2 separate regions of the Homo sapiens genome follow, and region 2 is reported to be linked to region 1. The links are microRNA targets in miRTarBase. Many come from high-throughput screens and were not tested one by one. Region 1 holds a microRNA gene; the other region holds the end of a gene's coding sequence.
What was found. Region 1 holds the annotated microRNA hsa-miR-1261 (AUGGAUAAGGCUUUGGCUU, at 2,999-3,017, shown strand). A microRNA usually pairs through its seed, bases 2 to 8, with sites in the 3' UTR of a target mRNA and lowers its output. Matches are read on the target gene's strand: a 7mer-m8 pairs with bases 2 to 8, a 7mer-A1 pairs with bases 2 to 7 and ends in A, and an 8mer does both.

Region 1 (7,117 bases):
GAGTAGAGTTGCTGGGTCCAATAGTAACTTGATGCTTAACTTTTTGAGCAACTTTCAGGCTGTTTTCCAAGGTGGCTGCACCATTTTACATTCTCTCTAGCTATGAAAGAAGATTCTTATTTTACCACATCTTCATTAACACTTGTTATTATCTGATATTTTATTACAGTTATCCTAGTGGGTATGAGGTGGTATCTTGCTGAACTTTTGATTTGCATTTCTCTGATGATAATGATTTTGAGCATCTTTCTATGTGCTTATTGTCCATTTGTATATTCTTTTTGAGGAAATGTCTAGCCAGGTCAATTTTTACTTAGGTTGTCTTTGTATTATTGAGTTGTAATAGTTGTTTTTGTATTCTACACAGAAGTCATATAATAGATATATGATTTGCAAATATTTTCTCTTTATTTTTCACTTTTTTAATGGTATCATTCGAAGCACAAAAACTGTTAATTTTATTGTAGTTCATTTTAGCTATTCTTTCTTTGTTGCTTATACCTTTGGTATCTCATCTAAGAAACCACCATCAAATGTGATTGTGAAAATTTTTCTCCATGCTTTCTTCTGAGATTATTTTTTGTTTTTTAGTTTTAACTCTTGCATTTAAGTCTTTGATTTATTCTGAGTCAATTATCATATATGGTGTGAGAAAGGAGTTCAAGTATTAATATTTAATTTATATTTAAAAAGTAAGTTCTGGTATATCCTTTTCCTTTGCCAGTCAAAGTCACAGGATGCATTCCAGCTATTAGACAAGGATACATATTGAAGAAGAAGTTTTAAAACATCAAAACTTTATTTTATTTATTCTTTTTACTTAGAAGTCAGTGTATTATGGAAAGGGACACATGTATTTGAAATCTATATAATCTGAATTAAAGCTGTAATTTCTATATAGCCTTTGTGATTGTAAAAAATAGAATACTTCTCTGAGCTAAAAATTTTATCTTTACAACAGAAATTATAATGAATATATTACACTGTTTTATTGAGGATTTAATGAGATACTTTCTGTCAAACAGCTAGTACAGTTCCTGGAAGTAAATGGAAACATCTTAAATATTAGTTTTTATATTCTACCTTCTTGTCTGCTGGCAGTATTTCCTATGCCACTTGCCTTAGATCTCTATTGGATTTGTTCTTCCGACATCTTTCCTGCATGCATTAATTTCACTGACTCCCTCCTCATACCCCTAACACACATAATGTGCTCAGTCTTGACAGTGTGGTTAAAATATGTGTAGAAATAACAGCAAAGACAACAAAAATGAGGAAGCAACAAACTTCTTAGAAAGGGAAGATCGAAATAAACTGCTTTGAGAATAGAAGTAGAGGCCTAAAGATATGGCTTGGAAAAAGAACTTAAGACAAAATAAAATACCAAGCTAAACTGTGCTGTTTTCATTTAATACACATGCAGGCATGCTTTGCAGATAGTGCAAGTTTATTCTAGACCACTGCGATAAAGCAAATGTCACAATAAAGTAAGTCACATATTTTTTATTTCTGGTTTTCTAGTGCATATAAAATAATTCCAATTGCAATACATCTAAAAAACAATGTACATACCTTTATTTTATTGCTAAAAATGCTAAAAACCAGCTAAGCCTTCAGAGAGTCATAGACTTTTTGCTGTAAGAGTCTTGCCTCGATATTGATGGCTGCTGACTGATCAGGGTGGTGGTTGCTGAAGGTTAGAATGGTTGTGGCAATTTCTGAAAATAGGAAAACAATTAAGTTTGTTGCATTGATTGACTCTTTCCTTCATGCATATTTCTCCAAAGCATACAATGCTATCTGGTAGAATTTCACAGTAAAACTTCTTTTGAAATTGGAGTCAATCCTTTCAAACCCTGCTGCTGCTTTTTCAACCAAGTGTATGTGATATTCTAAATATGTTGTCATTTCAACAGTGTTCATAGCATCTTTACCAGAAGTAGTTTCCATTTCAAGCAACTATGTTCTGTGTTCATTCATAAAAACAAACTCCACATCTGTTGAAGTTTTATCATGAAATTATAGATGTTCAGTTCCATCCTCAAGTTCCGCATCTAATTGTTCTCTTGCAATTTCTATTACATCTGCAATTACTTTCCCCACTGAAGTCTTCAATCGCTCAAAGGCATCCCTGAGAGTTGGAATTCACTTCACTTACACTTCCATTAATGTTGATATTTTGACCTTCTCCTTTGAATCATAAACATTCTTAATGCCATCTAGAATAATGAAGTATTTCCAGAGGGTATTCAATTTACTCTGCCCAGGTCCATCGGAGGAATTATATCAAAAATTATTTCTTGGATAATGAATTTGAAAGCTTAAATTACTCCTTGATCCTTGTGTTGCAGATTTAATGTTTTATTAGCAGGGATGAAAACGTACCTTGTGTATATCCCTATCAGAGCTTTTGGATGAGCACATGATTATCAATAAGCAGTAATCTTTTGAAAGGAATTTTTTCTAGTTTCTGGGGAACAGGCCTCAGCAGTGGGTTTAAAATGTTCAGTAAATCATTTTGTAAGCATACAAGTTACCATCTAGGTTTTGCTGTTCCATTGAGAACAGGCAGAGATAGTTTATTATGACTCTTAACGGCCCTAGGATTTTCAGAATAGTAAGGATTGGGTTCAACTTAAAGTCACCAATTGCATTATCCCCTAAAAATAGTCAGCTTGTCCTTTGGAACTTTGAAGCCAAGCACTGACTTGTCCTCTTTAGCTACAATCTTAGATGGTATCTTATTCAAATATAAGTCTGTTTTGTCTACATTGAAAATCAGTTGGAAAGTGTAGCCACCTTCATCATTTATCTTAGCTCTAGATACCTTACTACAGCTTTTCCATCAGCACTTGCTACTTCACCTTACACTTTTGTATTACAGAAAAAGCTTCTTTCCTTCAACCAAATGAACCAACCTCTGTTAGCTTCAAACTTTTCTGCTGCAGCTTCCTCACTTCTCTCAGCCTTCATAGAACTGAAGAACTAGAGACTTGCTATGGATAAGGCTTTGGCTTATGGGGATATTGTGGTTGATCTGTTCTATCCAGATGACTGAAACTTTCTCCATAGCAGCAGTGAGGCCATTTTGCTTTCTTCTCATTTGCGTGTTCACTGAAGTAACATTTTTAATTTTCTTCAAGAACTTTTTTTTTAACTTTCACAACTTGTCTATTAGGCCTCTCTTTCAGCTTACCTCAGCTTTCCACATGCCCTCTTCAGTAAGCTTTATCATTTCCAGCTTTTGATTTAAAGTGAGAGATGTGTGACTCTTCATTTCACTTGAACACTTAAAGGCCATTGAAGGGTTATTATTGGACTAATTTCAATATTGTTTTGTCTCAGGGAATAGAAAGACATGTGGAGAGGGAGAGAAATGCAGTAACAGCTGGTCTGTGGAGCAGTCAGAATACACACATTTGCCAATTAAGTTTCCCATCTCATATGGGCTAAGTTTGTAACCATTACAATAGTGACATTGATGATCATTGATTACAGATCACTGTAACAGACATAATAGTAATGAAAATGTTAGAAGTAATCACCAAAATGTGGCACAGAGAAATGAAGTGAGCACATGCTGTTGGAAAAATGGTGTCAATATACTTGCTTGATGCAGAATTGCCATGAACCTTCAATTTGTTAAACACACATACACACATACACACACAACATCTGCAGAGGGCCAAAAAGTGAAGTGCAATAAAATAAGTTATTCCTTTATTTTTTATATTAACATCTGCTTATTTAGTATTATTGTTTATCTGATTGAGGCATTTTCTTGTCCATTTATGGCATGCTTTAACTTATCCTGACAAATTCTGAAAATCATAAACAACTGTTTGGTATCAGAGAGATACATATTTTACTTGGAATAATAAAATTACTTGCCGCATGTGTATAATTTGAGAATTATTCTCTTAACTGTGAAAGATATGTATAAAGTAGAGCAAATCCAAGGCTATCTTTTTTAAGCTCTCAAAAAGTTAAAAAAAAAAGCACCAGGCAGTAAGTGTTTTGAGAACAGTAACGTACATTTGTCCTGCAAAAGACCAATTCATCTGCTTTAATAGAAATCCATTTAAAAAAAAGAGATCATTAAGTTGGAAAGTTAATATCCAATATATTTTTTGGCAATATACAAACTTATAATCATGATTTAGGTATCTAATTTTGACACTTGGACTTAAAAATTATAAATCGTATAAACTTCTAGTTGTTCTAGAAAACTTGCTTTGTTCTTATTTATAGAAATATAAAAATTGGCACACAGCAAAAATATAATATGAACATTTCAGTCAGAAAATAAAAAAGGTTTTAATTATCACATGTCTCCTGTCAAAAACACCACAGATGTTCATCTAAAAATGCATATTTTTAAATTAGAATTTTCTACAAATAAAAGTGATTCATCTTTTACACCAGGTCTTAGACAAATTGTGTCACTTCTTACATGATAATAAGCCACCATTTTAATTAGTAGTTGTCATTCACTCCAGCACACCAATCTCTAGAAGAGAGCAAGTAACATTTTGTACAGCTGCTCTCATGCTTTGCCTGTCATCTTTGTCCTGACTTTGAATTCCTCTCCCCAACATTTTCCTCTCCTTTACATAATCCCCCTCCTCATTTTCCTTACTCCCACTGAGCTGTCAAGAGTCAAAATACTGTGATATGAAATCATTGCCTCTATGACTCTAAAAAAGGTGAGCTTGCACTAGATTTTGATCAAAGGGAATCATTTATAAGATAGATGCAGCAAAAAACCTTGGGGAGTGTTTCCCCCCCACTACCCAAAGCATCAGTATTACGTGAAATAGAAAAGACAAAGAAACATATTTCTAAACACTTTTTTGCTCTTAATGACATGATTGATGTTCACTCTATATAATGTTTATTAGTTATTTTCACCTTGTTATTCAGTACCATCTCAGAAAGATGTCTCCTATGAACATATAACTCCAGTAAAAATGGGGAGAATGAAGGCTGTAAGAATTACAGCTCTCAGTTTTGTAAGCAAGAATGAATGGAGAATGAAAAAAAATCTATAACTATTTTGCAGAGGGAAGAAGAGCTTTGGAGGAGACTCTTAAGGTGCCATCATCAGGTGATAACAAAAATTGGGAAGATTTCTTGACTGTTTGCAATTCTCCTTGCCATCATTCTTACAAGGATGTATTTATGTTGTGCCACATCACATTGCAATCTTTGTCTCTACAGTAAAACCTAATTTTGCTAGTGTTTTGGTGAGAGAAGCAGGCCACAGTGCTTTAAGGGAGGCTGTTTGGTTACTGAATCCCACATAGTAGTCTTTGCTGGGATCTCTCAAGTGAGAACTTCCACAGTAAGGTTATAGCCCAATCAAGAGGTGATCCTACCTGTCTTCATGTTGGGTATCAAACATTAGAATTCTTACATCTCCTTTTCTTGGCAAAGATATAACAACCAGAGAAAGTGACACTACAAATCCATTTCTGAGAAAGTATGATAATAAGAATGAGTAATGGAAACATGGGCCATTTTTACCTCTGGTTTTGGGGTAACAGTCCTGATGCCTTCTTTAGATACAGAAGATGACATTTTAAAATTGTAAAGTGAAATAATGAACGTAATTTACATAAATGTACTCTGCACCCAGATTTAAAAATGATTATTTATATTCTGGTTTTGAAAATGTAGCCATTTCCTCAGTCTCTGGGCTTGTGTACAGGAAACGATATTCATTTATAATTTATTCATTTAATTTTTAGCTTTATAAAAGTGCACCCATTGCCATGGTCTCTGAGTGAATATAAAATACTAAACATATAACAACAAAGACAAAGTTAAGCAATAAAAGTAAATTGCAGAAATGTTATGGCTTTCAGATTGTGAAGTCAAGAGCCAAGATATTTTCAGATTAATAATATAAAGGCAATAAAATAAATTCCTACTTAGATGTTCACGTACACACTCATATATATATATATATATATATATATATATAGAGAGAGAGAGAGAGAGAGAGAGAGAGAGAGAGAGAGAGAGAATCTATGATGAAAGCAAAGAAAGGAGGTGGAGGTAAGTGACAGAAGACAAGATGATTAGTAGAATGAGGAGAGGAAAGTTAGAAGTTACAACATGTAGAATTGTCAGTTATCTAGGCTCTCTAAATAGGCCCTGTGGCTTTGTTTGTTAGTGTCAGTTTGTATGTGTTTATGCATAAGGAGGACCATTTTAAGAGGACTATTGGATATGTGCTGGGAAAAATAAAATCTGATTAAGGTGGGATGTTGACCATGGGGACAGAATTGGAGTGTAGGCTTTTTTCCAGAGACAACACAATACCAAAAGTCAGGGGTTGGGTGGGGGTTGGTGGGGACATCCAGGGTCAATTTGTAGGAAAATTCCAGTATTGGAGCATAGGACAAGGCAAGTAAATTGCAGAAAGTCCAATGACTCCAAATGAGAACAAAACAGAGTGAGGTACTATATTTTCTCACCAGTGTTTTCCCAAAAGCTAGCATATTCTCAATAATTATTTGTTAAATGAAAATGGAGGAACTGTGTAGGTTTGTAGCTTTTCATTATATACTGGAAAGTTCCTGATTTATAAAATATTCAAATAGTGTTAAAGTGCTAGGGACAAAGTATGCAAAGGCAAAGGTTTGAAAAAGTCATAGTTGAAAAAGTTAATTGGATTTTTAAAAACTTACTTATTTTTTATATTTTAAGTATGAGAGTGAAAGATGTATATGCATAAAGAAATGTCCCGAAAAATACAAAGTAGTAAATAGGATATATAGAGAGACTGTCCTCATAAGGAACATGGTGTGTGTGTGCACGCACGCGTGTATGTGTGTGCACGTGCATGTGTGTGTGTGTGTGTGTGTTTCTGTTTCCTTAAAGGAATGTGTTTCCTTAAAGTTTTACCCTTGACTAGTGTTGGTTCTGATGATATGTGTTATTTCTTTTCACATATTGCATTGTCTGCAAAGCCTTACATTTTGCTGATGAAAGTAGAGGGAGTTGGCGGTAGCATAGACACTGCAAAAAATGCCCTCAAAGCTCAGTAATTATTCTGAGGCAGATACAAGTGCCTGGCCTGAGAATAAGATCCAACTATAATAATGAGAAT
Region 2 (7,117 bases), not on the chromosome of region 1:
GGCTTCCTAGAGTCCTTCCTAAAGAGCTCAGGGCATATGGCATGTACAAATGGGCAGCATTGTGTCAACTCTAAGAACAACATTAATCAGGGAAGTCAAAGGATGGCAAGCTGGGTGGTAGCGTGCAGGGACGTGAAGAGGGAAGGAAGGCCGCTGTCAGATTAGCAGCTCTAGTCTTCAGTTGGTGTTGGAGAGGTGACTCACTGGCCAAACGTGTGCATGCAATGCTCAAATCTTTTCACTTTCCTCTATGAACACACTGAGGCCCTGCCTTCTCCTTGACCACCTGCCTCCCTGTGTCACTGCCCTGATGTCCCATTCTTCACTGTTTTCCTAGCTCAGCTGCCTCTCAGTCAGAAAGTGAAAACAACATTTCTTCTGGGGCTCCCAGAGTGGGGAGGTTGTTGCTACCCTTTCTCATTTTGGCTGGTGAAAGAGTGAAGGTAGAAACTGTGGTAAGAGCCCCCTGAGATTGCCTGTGTCCAGCCCTGAGGAGCCTGCCGTGGGGAGCGGGGAGTGAAGTGGAACATAAAAGGCCCTGGAGGCTGGGTGTGGTGGCCCACACCTGTAATCCCAGCACTTCAGGAGGCCAAGTGAGGCGATCACTTGAGGCCAGGAGTTCGAGACCAGCCTGGCCAACATTGTGAAAAATACTCTACTAAAAATACAAAAGTTAACCGCGCATGCTGGCGTGCTCCTGTAATCCCAGCTACTCAGGTGGCTGAGGTAGGAGGACTGCTTGAACCCTGGAGGTGGAGGTTACAGTGAGCCAAGATTGTGCCACTGCACTCCAGCCTGGACGAGGGAGCGAGAGTCTGTCTCAAAAATAAATAAATAAAAAAAATATTTAAAAAAAAAAAAAGAAAGAAAAAGGCCCTGGAAATGGAAAGTCAGCCATGGTCCAAAAGCTCTCTCAATTCTTCTTTGGGTCTAGTCTCTACACTCCAAAGAGCTTTGATTCTCTGTTTCTGAGAGGCAGGGACATATGAGCAAACCTTTTTTGAGGTTACCCAACCATTGTCCTATGTGCTGTTACCTCCACACCCTGGCTAGGGAGAAGCGGAAGGAGGAAGATTTTTGGAGTAGACATCCAAAGTCAATAGGTGGAGTGTCAGGTGACTGGGCCCAGCCCCTCTCATAAGCCACTGGGGTCCTGCTGAAGACTTGCTGTTTCCTTGTTCCTGGTCTGAGCCTGGCTCTCGGCCCAAGGCTTGCCTGACAGGCAGCGATTGGAAAAATAGCCCCTGTAATCCCCTGCAGCCTGTGTTCATCTGAGCCTCAATGTTCCCATCTCTAGAATGGGAGTATGTTTCTTTTTGGTGATGTATATTGTAATTAATTTGTAGTTGTCTGTACTCCACTGGCAGAGGTAGGGAAGGAAAGTGCTGGCCCCATAAAATGTTTAGATTAGTTGCATTTGCTAATCAGTCTGATCTTCCCATGCCAGGCCCTAAAGAAGCCACAGTCTGAATTCTTTTTCTTGAACTCTTGTCTGAAATGAAACACAGTATCTTCAGACAAATTAGAGCATTCTGAAAACACCTTTGGACACAGTAGTCCTAGCTTTCTTCCTCTTCTCTAAAGTACTCAAGGTTAGGAAGCCAGAAGTTTGCCACTCAGGGAAAGAAGTAGCCTTTGTTTGACCCTCTATGCTCACAGCAGAACTGGTAGATCTGGATAGAGGTAGCAAGTAAGTGAGCAGTGGGAACAAGGCCAGAGGTGGCAGAGGCAGAACATAGAAGAGTTCAGATCCTACTCAGTAAATGTGTGTCTTTTTGTTGTTGTTGTTTGTAGAGATGAGGTCTCACTATGTTGCCCAGGCTGGTCTCAAGCGCCTGGCATCAAGTGATCCTCCTGCCTCACGCTCCCACAGTGCTGGGTTTACAGGCATGAGCCACGGTGCCTGGCTTCAATCAATGTCTTTGATGCAATGCATCCAGGAGGCAAACAGTGGTCTGCAGGCCAGGGGCATTGGCACTGGTGATCACCACATGCCTGTAGAGGTGCAGCATGGGGTTCTCTCCTAAGGCTGCCGCTTCTCTGCTGCCCACATGGGTTTCAGCTGGCCCCTTAGAGAGTAGGCAGTAGGATGACAGCTCATCATACTGCTGACAGTGAAGGGAGCAGGCTGGCCCGGGAAGGCCAGCACCTGTAAACCAAGCTGTGTCACTGTATGAAAAATGAAGAGCTTGGTGGTGCTGGACCCTGAATGCAGGGTTTGTTTCTTTCTGAGTAGAATCTCCATTCTCCATTCCACATTAGTCATGCTTTCAGCTCTGGGATATCTGTACCAGGTGAGCACAATCAAATAACCTGTGTCTACTTGGCTGCAGTGCGTTATGGGTCTCTCTGTGGAGGTATCTTCCCCTAGGGCCTGACTGAGGCTGTTATTAAACTGATTTTTTATGTCTCAGACCACAGTGGGCTATTGGAGGAGAGGAAGAAACCTCCAACGTATTAGCAGAGAGCTCTCAAAAGTTGGCTTAGAGTCATGCATTTGCCCCGAGTAAGCTGAGACAGATGGACATCCCCACAAATAAAGATCTGAGCTCCTTTTATACATATGTCAGCAAGGACCTCAGGGCTGGTGCCTGAATTTTTAGCTCTAGTTCCGGCTCTCTGAACTTTTTTTTTTAATGCCTCATTAGGCCAGGGTTGTAATAAACTAGTTAGGTGACTAAAGAGAACCAATTCCTGGAAATGATTATGAAACCTTCCATGCACGAGCCTAAGAAAAAGAGAGAGAGAAAGACAGAGAGAGGGAGAGAGAGAGAGAGAGAGAGAGAAAGAAAGAAAGAAGCAAACCTTTAGAGCTTTACACAGGAAGGGACCTGACCAGATACTCAGACTATACATCCAAGCAAGGGGGAAGGCAGGGGACACAAAGATCGAGAATGCAGCTGTGGAGGTGAGGTGCTTTGCATGAAGTCCCAGTGTGCCCTTTCCTGAGTAGTGTAACTTAACTTCTCTGGTCCTCAGATTTCCCATCTATGAAATGGGAATGATCACACCTACCTTACAGAAATGTTACCGTAACTGTGATACACAATGTGAAAACACCTAGGATAGTGCCTGCTGTGCAGAAACACGTTAACAAGCAGTAGCAGCGTTAGTAAGTAACAGTGTAAAGTGAACTGCAGAAATGCACCCGAACCTGAGAATCTGCTTGATCTTGTGAAAATCAATGGTCTCCCTGCATCCTCGATTAGATTCTAATCCTAAGTTAGAAATCCCCAGGGAGGCTTCCCTGATTCTGGCCTAGGGATAGATGTTTGCCTGCCCCTCATCTCAGTGGTATAGGCATCATGCTAGCCGGAGGTATAAGATGAAAAACAACAGCACTGACAATACCAAGTGGTGGAGGTGGCCTCCTCTGCCAGTTTGGCCTCTGGCCCTTTAAATCAACCCTCCTGACTACTCCATGGATCAGTTAGCCCATAAAGGAGAGCTGTGAACACTTGGGGCTTCCCCGCTTCTCTCCCTGAAAGTTCTTACTCAGATCTTATCTCTGCCCCCTCCAAACTCTTGGCCCTGGGACTCTAATCTGGCCCTGCCCTGGCCTTTTGAACTCTTACCAGCTCCACCTCTGGTGGAGCTTAACTTTCCCTATAACGGCCTCCCTGCTAGAAACGCTCCTGGCTCTAGCCACGTGGCCAACACTCTTGCTGGGCTGGTTGTCTCCTCCCTCCCCTTCTTCCCCCAAGATGGGGTAGTCAGACAGAACATTCTAGCTGCTGAATTCCACAATGAAAGTATTAGAGCCGTTTGGAGGAAGGAGAGGTCCTGGAGAAAGGTGGTCAGGGAAGCCCTTGAGGAAGAATAGGATCTGATCTCCAGATCCGAGTGGGAACAAAAGAGTCCTGTACAATTTCATGGCTTAGTCCAGGGACTGGCAGATTCTGGCTCAAGGGCCAAATCCAGCCTCCCTCCTGTTTTGGGAAATAAAGTTTTGTTGGAACACAGCTGCGGTCATTTGTTTCTCGATTGCCTGGCTGCTTTTGTGCTGCAACGGCAGAACTGAGTAGTTGCCATAGAGACTGTATGGCCTGCAAAGCCTAAAATGTTTACCATGTGGCCCTTTACTGAAGAGTTGGCCAACCCCGGGTTTAGTGCATCAGGCTTCCCCAAACAGTGATGTGAGGAACTCCAGCCCCTTGGGACTGCTTCAATCAAACACAATAATCCAACACATCTGGGAAACACACATTATGTCCCCATCCCGAGGTGTGAAAACCCAGGGTGTTTCACAATACACCTCCATATAGCAAAGGCTCCAAAAGATCCTGCATAGAAGAATGTTTGTGGTTTCCCAGCATTTCCAAAACTTCATTAATCTACCAAACCTCCTTTTCCTCAGAACACCTTTTCACATCCTGAGAATCTAGCATTAGAAACAGTCTGGGTGCTGGGCCCATCCCTGCCACAAATGAGAACCAATTCCTGGGAATGATCATGAAACCTTCCATGCACAAGCCTAAGAGAGAGAGAGAGAAAGAAGTGAGCCTTTAGAGCTTTACACAGGAAAGGACCTGACCAGATACCTAGATCATAAATCCAAGCAAGGGGCACGGCGATCCAGAACATAGCTGTGGAGGTGGGCTGCTCCGAGTGGCCTTTGCTGAAGTACACACCTTGCAGAGCCTGCTCCCTCATTGGTTGAATAGGATCCATGATGTCTGTCCTATCTCCGTTACAGGATTATTTGGGGCAGGTCATTGAGAAAGCGAACAGGAAAATAGTCTCGAGGGACGACTGTGGTATCCTTGATTTTTGACAGTGAGTTTTGCTTTGGTACAATGCTCAGCAATGGTGAAGTGAAAAAGGCCCTGAACCAAGGTCACGAGTTCTCTTTGCTAGTCCTCACAGTGCTATAACTAACTGGGTTAACTGGGTGACTTTAAACAAGCGCCCCCCACCTGTACCCTTAACCCTGTTGGGCCTCAAGTCCCTCTCTTCTAGAATGAGGATATTAGACTAATCTCTAAAGATCTGTTAGCTCTGAAATTCTGCGATTCCATGTGGTTAGATGTGTGCAATTTTCCTACTTATCCAAAACAACAGGTTTCTCTTATAAGCCATAAAACCGGCATCTCCTTGATTTTCTTTGTACAGTGTCTGTGTTCAGAACCAGATATAAGGGGGTATTACTGAAGGATTTCTGTGCTGCTGACAGCTTAGAAGGCAGGACTAAGCCTTCTGGAAATGTCTACCTGGCAATTCTCAACTCGATATTGGTGCCTATTTTTCCTTTCTGCCTCCACCGCTCAGGCTGTTCCATCCAACAATGGAGCCCAGACAGTTTGCCAGCGGATCTGGCAAAAGAAAATAGTGGATGTGATTCCTGGAAAGGCAGTGGGGCCTAGGGTGGAGCGAAAGTTCCCTGACAAGCATGAGGTGATGTAGTTACAGGGCAGAATCCACATAAAATTCCTCTCTTTTGTCTCCCACCTCACCCCCAAAAACCATTTTCCAGCTTCACCAACAGTCCTCCATATCGAGGATTTATAAGCAGCTGAACAAGAGGGCCTTTATGAAGAAAGCAAGAATCTACTGAAAATACCCTGCTCCTCCATGAATGTAGGAAAATCCCAGAAAATCTTGGCCGGGTCAAAAGGTCTACGGCACAATAAGCCTGGGTCCAAATGGGGCGGGATGATGTGAGGAATGGGTGTTTGCCCTTTTGATCTCAGCGGAGAAACCAGCTGCCTGTGGGGTCATCTAGGGGACTCCCAAAAGGAGGGGCAGAAGCCCAGGGGGACCCAGAGTTCTTGCAGAGGAAGGGTGCCTAGAGGCCACTGAGCCCCCAAGTCAATCAGACACAGGTATTTATTGGGGTCCTACTGAGTTGGAAGTTCTCTGGGGGCATCATGAGACAGATAAAATGCAATTACTGCCTTAAAGGAGCTTAGAATCTACTTGAGAAGGCAAGGCTGGTACACTTAAATATAATACATGTGAATGGGAGGCTGAGTGCTAACAGTAGTCAGAAAAGGAGCCCCCAGCAAGGGCTGGGAGTGTTGATAGGGGATTTGTCACTTTCCACACTGATTGGAAGCCTCTTCTATTTTCAAACATTCAGGAATGGAAATTTCATGCTTTTCCTAGGTGACCTCTTCCAGTGTTTCATACACTGTTCTTGAAGTCTCCTTTGAGTCATCTTGTCACCTTTGGACGTGGATAATGCTTGACTTTCTTGGGCCCAAGGACAGCCAGCCTTTCTTCCATGGGTGGAGCACCGGCTGCATCAGCTTCTCTTCCCACAGGTGGAGGAAGGATGATGGAAAGAGGCTGGGGTCCTGAAGGCCTTTGATCTTGGTCCTTCTCCCATGGTAACTGAGCAGTTCATCTCTCTGTCCCTCAGGGTCCTGGATTTCTCTCTGGGGCAGTCAGGCTGGCCCCAGCAGGAAGAGAGTCATCCTGGAGCATCTTTCTTTCCACATGGGGCAGCTGGTCTGCTTGGGGGTTCACTTCCAGAAAATGTGTCATCTGAATTAAGGTGACCCTTTCTGCCTCCTGAGCTGCAGAGACACAGAGCAGACTGTGAGGGTTCTGGGTAAGGACAGCACTGACTTTGATTTCCTAAGAACCACTCCCAACCACTGCAAGTTTTCAAGAACTTTCTGACACAGAAGCAATGGAGCCCTAGTTGGCTAGGCTAAGCCAGCCTAGCCCATGATAGGGCTTGGACTTCGGGGCCTGGGTCTGAGAACCTTAGCCTCCTCCACTTGCTGCCAGAAAATCTCACCCTTTCTTCACTAGGTGTACATATCACAGAGCCCTCACTTTAAGAGTACTTAAACCTGGGCATGTTGCTCTCAGAGAATTTTAGCTGGGCTTTGCCAAAGGGGGAAAATGCGAGGTTTGATCCCAGGTCTGGGCCCTGCACTCCTGCTCTCTGCTGTGAGGGTTGCTTATGAGGCTTATGGTTAACATAGGCATCACAGCCTTTGTAATCTTCCAGGAGCTTCTCCTTGTGCTCTGGGATGCCATTGACACGTAAGTACAGAGATAATTTCTAATTTTATTGATTAAAAACCAAGGCAGTTTGGGCAGAGTGGCTCACGCCTATAATCCCAGCAATTTGGGAGGCCAAGGATCACTTGATGTCAAGAGTTCA

Region 2: the mRNA of FCAMR is a reported target of hsa-miR-1261. Seed matches in the 3' UTR shown: 7mer-m8 at 6,175-6,181.

The regions. Positions count from the first base shown.
Region 1 is chr11:90,865,080-90,872,196 of GRCh38, reverse strand. It overlaps MIR1261 (microRNA 1261), which reads left to right and starts at 2,995; the gene lies at 2,995-3,076. All of the region lies in intron 6 of DISC1FP1 (DISC1 fusion partner 1), which reads right to left.
Region 2 is chr1:206,952,159-206,959,275 of GRCh38, forward strand. It overlaps FCAMR (Fc alpha and mu receptor), which reads right to left. Exons shown (of 8, transcript NM_001170631.2): 8 at 5,809-6,518. The coding sequence ends at 6,358. Among named protein-coding and RNA genes, the nearest start is that of PIGR, 9.3 kb to the left of the region's middle.